Regions from separate parts of the Homo sapiens genome. Here region 1 is linked to region 2. Evidence: fine-mapped expression QTL. A gene starts in region 2. The other region holds a variant in brackets. All regions are shown on one strand. Distances are between the middles of the regions.

Region 1 (5,370 bases), 120 kb after region 2:
GGGCCCCTCCCAGGGACAGGAGGATGCCAGAGGGCTGAAGTGCTCAGGGAGGGACAGAGGAGGGTAGGAACCAGAACCCTGGGCCCCGTATATGCCTCTCTAAGCTGTAACTGAGGCCTTGGGACCATGCTGCTCTGGAATGCCAACAATGAGAAAGGCTCACAGGGCCACTGAGCGTGAGAGGGGGGAAGGGGCTTGTAGAAGGTTACCGAGGAAGGCTACTGTACAGCTGGGGACTTCCAGCTGTGGGCCCTTCCCTGGTCACTCCCAGCCCTGGTTCCCCTGGCTCGGCTCCTCCCACCGTGGGACGTCAGATACAGTCATCCTCCCTGGATTCCCTGTGATCTCACCAGGCTCCCACCTGTTACCCCTCCCCTCCCCCTGGCGCCCCCCACTCCGCCCCCCAACTCCGCCGTCCTCACACTACAGCTATTCCTTCTTTGTGTTTTTAGATATACCTACATACTGGCCAGGCGGTGGAGCTCACGCCTGTAATCCTAACAATTTAGGAGGCGGAAGCGGGTGGATCACCTGAGGTCAAGAGTTTGAGACCAGCCTGGCCAACATGGCGAAACCTGGTCTCTACTAAAAATACAAAAATTAGCCAGGCGTGGTGGCGCATGCCTGTAATCCCAGCTACTTGAAAGGCTGAGGAAGGAGAATTGCTTGAACCCAGGAGGCAGAGGTTTCAGTGAGCCGAGATCACACCACTGGCACTCCAGCCTGCATGACGGGAGAGAGACTCCATAAAAAAAAAAAATATATATATATATATATATATATATAATATATATATCTCATACAAACAATATGTATCACATTTATATGTTATCAAGCACGATCATGTAATAAACCCGCAAATGTCCAAACCCAAAACTAGAAAATTATTAATAGTTTGTACTACTCCTGTGTTCCTCTCCATCTGCCTGTAGGAATTATTTCTTTTTCTAAAATAGTTTTCTTACATACATATATATAGCAAAGAATGTATTTTTGCTTATTTTTCAGCTACAAGACTGGTGTCACACTGTATATAGTCTACTGTATTACTTTGTTGTTGTTTTTTTTGAGGCACAGTCTCACTCTGTCACCCAAGCTGGAGTGCGGTGGCACAATCTCCATTCACTGCAACCTCCGCCTCCCGTGTTCAAGGGATTCTCTCCTGCCTCAGCCTTTTGAGTAGCTGGGATTACAGGTGCCCAACTACACCAGGCTCTTTTTTTTTTTTTTTTTTTGAGACCGAGTCTAGCTCTGTCGCCAGGCTGGAATGCAGTGATGCAATCTTGGCTCACTGCAACCTCCGCCTCCCAGGTTCAAGCAGTTCTCCCGCCTCAACCTCCCGAGTAGCTGGGACTACAGGTGTGTGCCACAACACCCAGATAATTTTTGTATTTTTAGTAGAGACAGGGTTTCACCATGTTGGCCAGGATGGTCTCGATCTCTTGACCTCGTGATCCACCCGCCTTGGCCTCCCAAAGTGCTGGGATTACAGGCGTGAACCACCACGCCCGGCTACTGTATTACCTTTTATGCCTCCAGAATTTTTCTGTGTTGTTGCAGGTGTCTGTTGTGCCTTAATTTTTGCTATTGTAGAGGGTTCTATTATGTGCAATTGCGCAGCAGTGTATGTATCTGTTCCCCTGTGGATGGACATTTGGGTTGTGTCCAGTGTCTCTTGACCACCTACCTTGTGCCATGCCCCCAACCCTCCTGTCATTACTCCACAATCTAGCTACATCCACAAAGCCATGACTTCACGAAACCCTGTCTTCCGCTTCTGAGCTCCAGACCATATAAAAGGCATAACTGTGTTTATTGAGCACTTACTCTGAGCCAGAAATGATTCTCAACATTTTACATGTGGTAGCGCATTTAATATTCACAGCAACACAAATGGGAAGTAATATTCTTATCGCCATTTTACAAATAAGAAGACCAAGGCCCAGAAGGGTTGAATATCTTGCTCAAGATCACACACATTTTGCCACCCCCCATTCCAAGTCCCATAGGCAACTCAGACTCAGCATGTCCATGATGTAACTTATCTTCCTCTCCAAACCATTTCCTCACTTGTGCCCTACTCTCAGTGGGGACATCTCCAATCCCCAGGCCCAAGCTGGAAACCGGAAGCCATTTCTGACTCCTCCCTCTCCCTCACCCACTCCATCCAAATGGAACCCAAGTCCTGTACATTGTACTTCTCCGGTATTGATCAATCCCCGCTCTCGTCTCCACGCCCACGGTGCTGACCCATTGTTAGGTGCCCGGCTGCTGCTCCTGGGTCATCACTTTCGCAGGCCCATCTCCACCATTTCCAGCATCCTACACACTGCGGCTCAGGTGTGCTTTCTAAACCTCACCTCACCGTGTCCCCACCTCCAGAACGAAGCCCAGCCTCCTCTGCCCATCCCCTCAAACTGTAAAGTGCAGCTCCCACCCCCAAAAAGGACACCCCCCACCACCATACCCTGCTCTGTCTCCTCCTCTGGGAAGCCTCCTGGCCTTGGCCCAGAGGCTGGATGTGAGCTCCCCTACCCCGAGCCCCACAGCCTCCAAGCCTCCCACTCTGCACTCACCTTCTTCCATATAATTACCTGTCCCCCATTAAACTGCAACCCTCAAAGGCAGAGCCCAGCGCATCCACTGCGCATCCCCAGTGTCCAGGCAGGGCCTGCACACAGTAGATGCACAATAATTATTGAAAGGCAAAATGCATGAGCAAGGACAGGAACCATGGGTGATGCTGCCTTCTGAGCCCCAGGCAACAGAGTGATTCCTGCCTGGCCCCAGGGTCAGTGGATCCTGGCCCCTCACCCCACCCAACCTCTGCACCTGCTTCCCTGGAGCCCTTGGAGCCCTATGAGGCCTCTTCCTGTGTCTTCATGTGGTCGAAGGATTTCCCTCTTTGCATCTTCCTTTCCTATTCCTTCATGTGGGAGCACTCTGGCACCAGGAAGAAGAAAGAGGAGCCCAACCCCTTAACAGCCTTCAATCTATAACAAGCATTCTCAAGGGAATTAAAACTGATTCTTAAAAGGGGAGGTGAAAAAAAAATCTTACTCTTTTTTATGTATAAAGCACAGAACATATACAGAACATAAACAGATATATAGTACATCTG[T/C]GGTATTAAAATTTCATGTGATTAAGAAAAAAAAAATCTAGAAGAATACTAGGGAAGGAACTAATGAAAAAAAGGCTAAAAAATTCTGATCTACATTCTTGGGCCTTGCCTTGTCTGGTCCAAGAACCGGCCAGAACTCAGGGAAGGGAAGAACCAGGGGAGAGTCTAGAGTCCAATCTCAGGATCCCCTCAAAGTATTTCCAAAGCCGGCCCCCAACCAGTCAGCTACGGTCTGTTCCCCAAAACCACCCTTCCTTCCCCCGTGCCTGAAAATCCCTCATTCTGTCGTTCTTTCATCTCACCCTGTTCCTACTGAGGGCGCAGGTCATCTCTTCCCCATTCTCCCCCTGGGGCACCCCAGTTCCCAGGGCATGAAAGACTTGAGGTGCCTCACCTCTACACCTTGGGCTAAGACATAGCCCTGGAGCTCCTGTAAGAACCCAGGAGGGAAGCCCAACCACAGGAGGCCCCCAGGAAGTGGGGGTACTGCTGTCGGACAAGCCTTGCTTTATTGGGGAATGGATGGGATCACAAATAATCTCTGCTTAGAAGTGCTCTAGGGCCATGGATTCATGTAAGGGTGGGGCAGGGTGGACTGAAGATCTGTTGGCAGGGCTCACAGAGACGGGGGTGAGGGGAGAGATCGTGGGTTCATGAGATCCCATCTTGGGCAATACGGTTATCCCGTGGTCTTCATACGCCACAGAATCCTCCAATTTCAGGGGCTCCCGTGGGATGGTGGAGCCAATGAAGACCAGGTAGATGATGCCACCTAGATAGGCACCCAGAAGTGGTGCCACCACTGGCACCCACCACCAGTTCTCCCCATTGCTGCAGGCAAGAGGCAGAGGCCTGCTGAGGGGGCTGATGCCCAGGACAGCACCCTCATCCACCTCGGGCCAAGACAGGTTGAGCAGAGGAGTCATCCCCAGGCTACCCCAGGAAACACCCCCAACCCAGGGCCCTGGTCAGCCTCAGCCCAATTCAGGGACAGCGTTGACACTCAGTGCAGGTGCAGGATCTGTATCTGTACTGGCCTGGGGAAATGTTGGGACTCACTCCTGCTCCCCAGGCTACCTGGGGGCTCAGCAGGACCCTCCTGTGCTGCCCCTCACATCACCCCCCACCCCTCAACACACAGGGGACCCACAGAAAAACTCAAAGGAATGGGCCTGGGCAGGGGCAGTACCTGAAGACCTGTTTGCCCCAACCAGCAATGAAGGTGAAGATGCGGGGGGGCAGGTCCCGGGACGGGTTGATGGCATATCCTGTGTTCATGCCAAGGGACACCCCGATGATGACCACGAGGATGCCTATCACCAGCGCCTCTGTTCCTGGCAGTGCTGGGTTGTTCTCCTGGTCCGTGATGGCGAAGAGACACAGCTGGAGCATCCCGGTCAGCCACGCCTGAGGAGCAGATGCTGTGGCAGCTCACCTGGGCCCCTCCCCAAGCCACAGGACCTCGGCAGTGCCCCAGACCCAAGCCCACCAGCAGAGACACGTCTCGGTACAGTCTCCATCCAGAGTTCTTGTCCTGTCTATCCGGAGGGACTCCCTGCTGGCTCCGTCCTGAGGGGTGGAGGGCAGGGGGAGGGATACTCATCCTCGACCACTGACCTCATTCAGGAAGCCCCGCCACAATGTCATGTGATCAGGAAGGTAGGTGGCAAAAATGCCAGCTGTAGCGACGGGACCGGTCACCATCAGCTGTCCACCCGAAAAGTGGAGAATGGCCGCTGCGGAGACACAGACTGTCATGCGAACCTGCTCCCAACTAAGCCCCACCGGGGTCCCAGAAATGAGGTTATAGGTTAGAGGGTGGGGGATCTCCAAGGCTTTTTTCTCCCAGCTATTTTTTACAAATCAGGACACTGAGGTCCAATCTGCCCATATTTCATAGGAGGCGGCTGAGGCCAGAGGCGGACACCCGGGCAGGATACTCACTGTAGAAGAGACTGTAGATGGTGGCAGCCGCCAGGAAGGAGCCCAGGAACTGCCCCAGCACATAGACCGGAAACTTCCTCCAGGGCACGCGGCCCAGCGCACAGTTAGCAAAGGTCACAGCTGCGTTCATGTGGGCTCCTGCGGGCAGCAGGCAAGTGTGTCAGGGAGTGAGAGCAGAACAAACAACAGTGACAAACAGTATGAGAACAACGATGGCTAGTGTGTATGACAGCATGCTCCGTGACAGAGCTCTCTCCTTGAGCCCTCACAACCACCCCGTGAGGCAGGGGCCACCATCTTCGTTT
Region 2 (5,297 bases):
GCCATCATCATAAGACTTCAAATCTGACACCTGTCCAGGTGTTTGAGAGTGTCCAATACCTAGCAGGTCCTCAATAAATATCTGTTGAAGAACTGAATGAATAAACAAATAAATAAAAATTGTCCCAGTTTGAAAACAGAGTGACTATTAGGAAAAGTTCAGCAGTTTTAAAACTGTCCTTTGGCCATAAGGAAAAGCCGGAAAAGAAATGCTTACCCTTGGCCAGGTGCAGTGGCTCACACCTGTAATCCCAGCACTTTGGGAGGCCGAGGCGGGTGGATCACCTGAGATCAGGAGTTCGAGACCAGCCTGGCCAACATGGTGAAACCCTGTCTCTACTAAAAATACAAAAATTAGCCGGGCATGGTGGTATGCACCTGTAATCCCAGCTACTTGAGAGGCTGAGGCAGGAGAATCACTTGAATCCGGGAGGCGGAGGTTGCAGTGAGCCTAGATCGTGCCATTGCACTCCAGCCTGGGCGACAAGAGTGAAACTTCGTCTCAAAAAAAAAAAAAGAAAAAGAAAGAAAGAAAAAGAAATGCTTACCCTTAAATATGAGTTTCTGAAAAGACTGTGGAACCCCTATGACCTCTTCAACAACCTGGGCCAGGTCTTGGACAACTGGTTCACTGCTGCCCTGCTGGGAGGTAACATGAAGGTCGTGCTTCTCATTGCCTGGGGAGAAAGAAAAGCATTTGACGAATATGATTCTTTCACATACACCAATATAGGATGACACTTTATCACATTTATTTACCCAGCCTTCAAGGCCCAGCTCATATGCCACCTACTCCACAGAGCCTGCCCCCATGCCACCCAGCTTTCCTCTGGTGACCTCCTCAAGTATCTCTGTTTCCTCTATTATAATAACTAACAATATGAATGATATCTGCTAACATTTTAAGCATTTCATGCATAATCTAATTTAATCCTCAGATAAACCCCACGAAGTAGATCTACCTATTACTTCTTATTTCACAGATGAGCAAACTGTGACTTCAGGCAAGTTAAGGACTGCCTATGGAGACTCAACTGTTGGAATCAGAAGTTGATATCAGATCTAGCTGATTCCCAAGCCCACCTTTTTCATCACAAGCCATCTGCTTCCTGTGGCTTGACTGCCCTGTACCCTGTATTGTATTGGTCTCGTCTCGCTTGCTGTAATGGGCAAGTGACTGTTTTCCTCCAAGTCTCTCCCACTGAACACACTTGAGTGCATCCATGATTTGTGCTAAGTAAACAGACAAATGCATACGAACAGCAGAGCCTTTCTTTCTGAAGAAGAGACGCCAATTCTTTTCCAGGGATGCGGACAGCAAGGAGGGAGCCTGTGTACAGTACATTACACCAAGGTTTGGTTCCCCCAACAGCTCCGTGAGGTCAGCAGGAGCCAGGGTTACCAAATCTACTTCACAGAGGAGAAACCGGATTCTTAGAAGAAGCCGTCCATCCCAAGGTCACTCAAAACCGCAGGATCTAGAATCCAGGTCTCCAGATTCCCAGACCCTTGGGCCTCCCCTAGCTGGTTCTAGAGAAACCTCATGGACTCAGCTCTCCGGTGTACTGACTTCATTTGGTGGTGTGTCAACTCCAACAGTAGGCAGACCCAAAGGGTGCCCAGAGTACAACGCTTGGACCCACGGCCAACTCAAGCGGCGCACACGGAGAAGGCACTCAGCACACGAGGAGCACCCCGGCATGCACGAAGTTCTGACTTATCACACACGGAGCAGTCGTAGACCACATGGCCCAATATATGCCTGACACAAAGGGCACAATAACTGCGCGGGCACACAAACACAACCAGGCCCACGACGTAAAGCACGGAGAAGCTCAAACACCCAGGATCGCACAAATGACCAGAGACAAAATACACCGGCCACATGGAAAAGTGTACAGACACAAGCCCGGGACAAAAGACAGTTCCACGGACACAACCAATAACCCACGCTTCCGGACGCCAGGACAAGCGCAAGGTCACACGCTTCTGGAGGACACGTGACTAAACCCACAGACCCCGCCGGGCTTTCGGGACCTGCATGGAGCCCACCTGGCGCCCGACACTCACTGTGGGTGACAGTCACGGTGAGCCCAGCTGCCGCCATTTCCTCCCTGGTCACCTCCTCGCTCCGGGTCGACTCCTCGTCCCGGGTCACCTCCTGGCTCCGATTCATCTCTTCGCCCTGGGTCGCCTCCTCACTCTGGGTCGCCTCTTCACTCCAGGTCGCTTCCTCACTCAGGGTCAACTCCTCGCTCCGGGTCAACTCCTCGCTCCGGGTCGAGCGGCGCCGGGTTTTCTTCTTCATCCGCGGCCTGCGAGCGCCGGCGGCGGCGCCCCTGGTGGGTCGGTCATGCCCGCTGGCAGTACTCCGGGCAGGTGGACGCCCAGAGGGAGGCGGACCACGCTGGGCCGGGGGCTCCGACTGGCGCGGCTCCCGGCCTGGCCGAAGGGCGCGCAGCCGGGAACCCAGCCGCTCCCGGTCGCCTCGCGGTCTCCGCGCCCCCCCGCGCTGAGCCAGGCCCGCACTTGTTGACCGCCCAGCGATGGAAGCTGAGCGCGGCGTCTCACAACCCCGCCCGACTACTTCCCAGCCCCGCCCCGGCCTGCCGGCCCCGCCCTCGCCCTATGCCGCGTTAGTTGCCTCCAGGCCCCACCCACTCAACTGAGGCCCCGCCTTGCTACAGTAAAACCCCTCCCACTCCTTCTACCAACACCCCGCCCCCTGCAGGCTCTCTCCGAGAGCACCAAGTCCTTTTGCTCTCCATCCCCGGAAGACCCGGCTGAAAATCCGGAAAAAGAATCGGGAAACGCCAGGAGGCATATTGCGCTTGCGCACGGAGGGGCCGGAAGTCGAGGCGGGAGTGACTCTGCTTCCGTTTCTGGTTTTGCTCTAGTGTTTGGGTTTCTTCGCGGCTGCTCAAGATGAACCGACTCTTCGGGAAAGCGAAACCCAAGGCTCCGCCGCCCAGCCTGACTGACTGCATTGGCACGGTGGGCATTTGATCATGCATAAGTAGGCTCAGGACCTCTGACACACCCGACCCCGCCCACCCCCAGCCCCGGGCCCATATTCTTCCACTTCATTTCGGGTCCTGGGCCCCTTACACGTCGTCCCTCTCTATCTCACCTTCTCCCCTTCATCCCTGTTACCCAAGTCATTCCTAACGCCACAAACCAGGGAACCCCTAACCCCATCACTGCCTTGCCCTGCCAGCACCCAACCCGTTTTGATGCCCATTGCCCGTCCACTCGCTCTCGCCTTGATCCTCTCACCTCACCCAGCCCTAGGCCCATACACCCTTCCCACCTCATCCTGCCTGATCCCTTACCCTTCTTCCATCTGTCATCCCCAGTCCACATCAGGACTCAGCTTGATATCCTAGGTCAACATATCTGTGCCTTCGTCCTGGATCTCAGTAACACAAAACTCAGAACCCTAGCCCCTCAGATTAAGCCACCATCCCCGATTTAGGGAATGGCATTAGATCTACAATCAGCTGGTTTCACTTGGCACTGGCCCATTTCATGTGCCTCTTGGAGGAACTCTCAGCCTGGCTAGTCTCTGATTCTAGGGAAATTCCAACTCAACTCAGTGATTCTCAAATTATTTTCTGCCCCAACCCACTTGAAGGCTACCTGGTATATCAGAATCGGGGCAGTGTGGCGGGGGGTAAGAGAATAATTTATAAAGCCCAGGGTTTCTGGTTGGGAATACCCTTCTTTGTGAACCACTGTTTTTCACCCTTCCCCTTAAGCTCCTCTTTTCTTCCTCTGTATTCCTTCCTCTCTACCTGCCCCTTCTGGAATAAGTGTATTGCAGTAACTACCAGTGCATTTGATATTTTCCCCTAAGGTGGACAGTAGAGCAGAATCCATTGACAAGAAGATTTCTCGATTGGATGCTGAGCTAGTGAAGTATAAGGATCAGATCAAGAAGATGAGAGAGGGTCCTGCAAAGGTAAGGTGGGCAGCAACTGCTGCACAAGGTGCTGGCAGAGCCTAGTTTTAGCACCTATAGAAATAGGGCCTAGTTCGGCTGGGCGCAGTGGCTCATGCATGTAATCCCAGCACTTTGGGAGGCTGAGGCGGGTGGATCACGAGGTCAGGCATTTGAGACTAGCCTGGCCAACATAGCGAAACCCTGTCTCTACTGAAAATACAAAAACTTAGCTGGGCATGGTGGCAGGCGCCTGTAATCCCAGCTACTCAGGAGGCTGAGGCAGGAGAATCGCTTGAACCTGGGAGGCGGAGGTTGCAGTGAGCAGAGACCACACCATAGCACTCTAGCCCAAGTGACAGTGTGAGACTCCGTCTCAAAAAATAAGTGAAATAGGACCTAGTGCAGGGGCTGTGAGCATCCCTACAGAAGAGATGCTTACAGTCTGGTAAGGAGAAAACATGTGAGGGTGTATCCTTTAGGGAGGAGAGTTTGCAATCAAATATGGAAGGGAGGCTGGGGATTGATCTGGTGGAAAGAGATGCTGGTCACACGTCTAAAAGCATGTACATGAGAATTAGCATATTATACTGAGAAGGTGGTAATCTGGAGAGGAAGACTAGGCTGTGCTCAAGATCAATGACTTGCTAAGCTGGTCAGGTTAGGTTGGTATATTAGACTGCTTAAGGAGTGGCCTGCTGGGAAAAACTGAACTAGGCATCTGGGACCAGTGTTCTAATACACTGTCACTGCCTTCTAGTTGTGACCTTGATAAAGTCACTTATTTTCCACTCCTGTTAGGTAGAAACATAAAATACTGTGTTTAAGCACATGGACTGTGGATATAGAACTACCTTGTTTTTTCCAGATCCATAACTTATTAACCATGTGAGCCTGGGTATCACTGAACCTCTCTTTCCCCATCTGTAAAACAGAGATAATACCCACCTTACAGTATGAGGATTAAATGAGGTAATTGATGTGACCTGTGTACCACTATGTCTAGGATAAAGTAGTACTCAGTAAATATGAGTTATGATCATCTGTGAAGTAATAATACCTGTTTTTCCTTCCTCACTGGAGAAGACAAATAAAATGATCTACAGAATTCTATAGAAAAGGAAGGCTTTTCCCAGCCATCTTAGTGGATGGTGTGGAATGAAGAGCAACCAGAGGTAGGAAAGCCCATTTAGATTTGAGACAATGAAAGCCCAAACCATGGTGGTAGGAAACCAAAGAATCAGTTTGAAAGTGAGTTCTGAAATCAGCTAACAGGATGACTGTGCATGAAGAAACAACAGAAAGAGGAAAGATAAGGTTGATAAAAAGGTTTTCAACCTAGAGAGGTGAGAGATTGG

Which allele goes with the higher level. Positions count from the first base shown, and alleles are read on the strand shown. Sizes are in standard deviations (SD) of each study's normalised expression.
With allele C in place of T in region 1, the expression in B cells of the gene that starts at base 2,554 in region 2 is higher (large effect, 1.0 SD a copy in Fairfax 2012).

The links. PIP is the estimated chance that this variant, and not a neighbour inherited with it, causes the effect.
Region 1: its variant is the best candidate, but not a certain one, in a credible set for the expression of BAG1 in B cells (Fairfax 2012, PIP 0.57).

What each region holds. Positions count from the first base shown.
Region 1 is chr9:33,381,339-33,386,708 of GRCh38, forward strand. It overlaps AQP7 (aquaporin 7), which reads right to left. Exons shown (of 8, transcript NM_001170.3): 5 at 5,066-5,203; 6 at 4,739-4,857; 7 at 4,311-4,528; 8 at 1,853-3,952. The coding sequence ends at 3,667. LOC124902142 (a long non-coding RNA gene) reads left to right here. Exons shown (of 2, transcript XR_007061462.1): 2 at 453-876. Among named protein-coding and RNA genes, the nearest start is that of AQP7, 19 kb to the right of the region's middle. RefSeq lists enhancers at 1-465, 2,034-2,534, 2,535-3,035, 4,527-5,370. The variant T/C (reference allele first, on the strand shown) is at 3,122.
Region 2 is chr9:33,262,155-33,267,451 of GRCh38, forward strand. BAG1 (BAG cochaperone 1) reads right to left here and starts at 2,554. Exons shown (of 7, transcript NM_004323.6): 1 at 2,070-2,554; 2 at 548-676. The coding sequence starts at 2,520. CHMP5 (charged multivesicular body protein 5) reads left to right here and starts at 2,895. Exons shown (of 8, transcript NM_016410.6): 1 at 2,895-2,993; 2 at 3,856-3,960. The coding sequence starts at 2,925. RefSeq lists enhancers at 1,563-1,612, 1,743-2,332, 2,863-3,102 and a silencer at 2,363-2,682.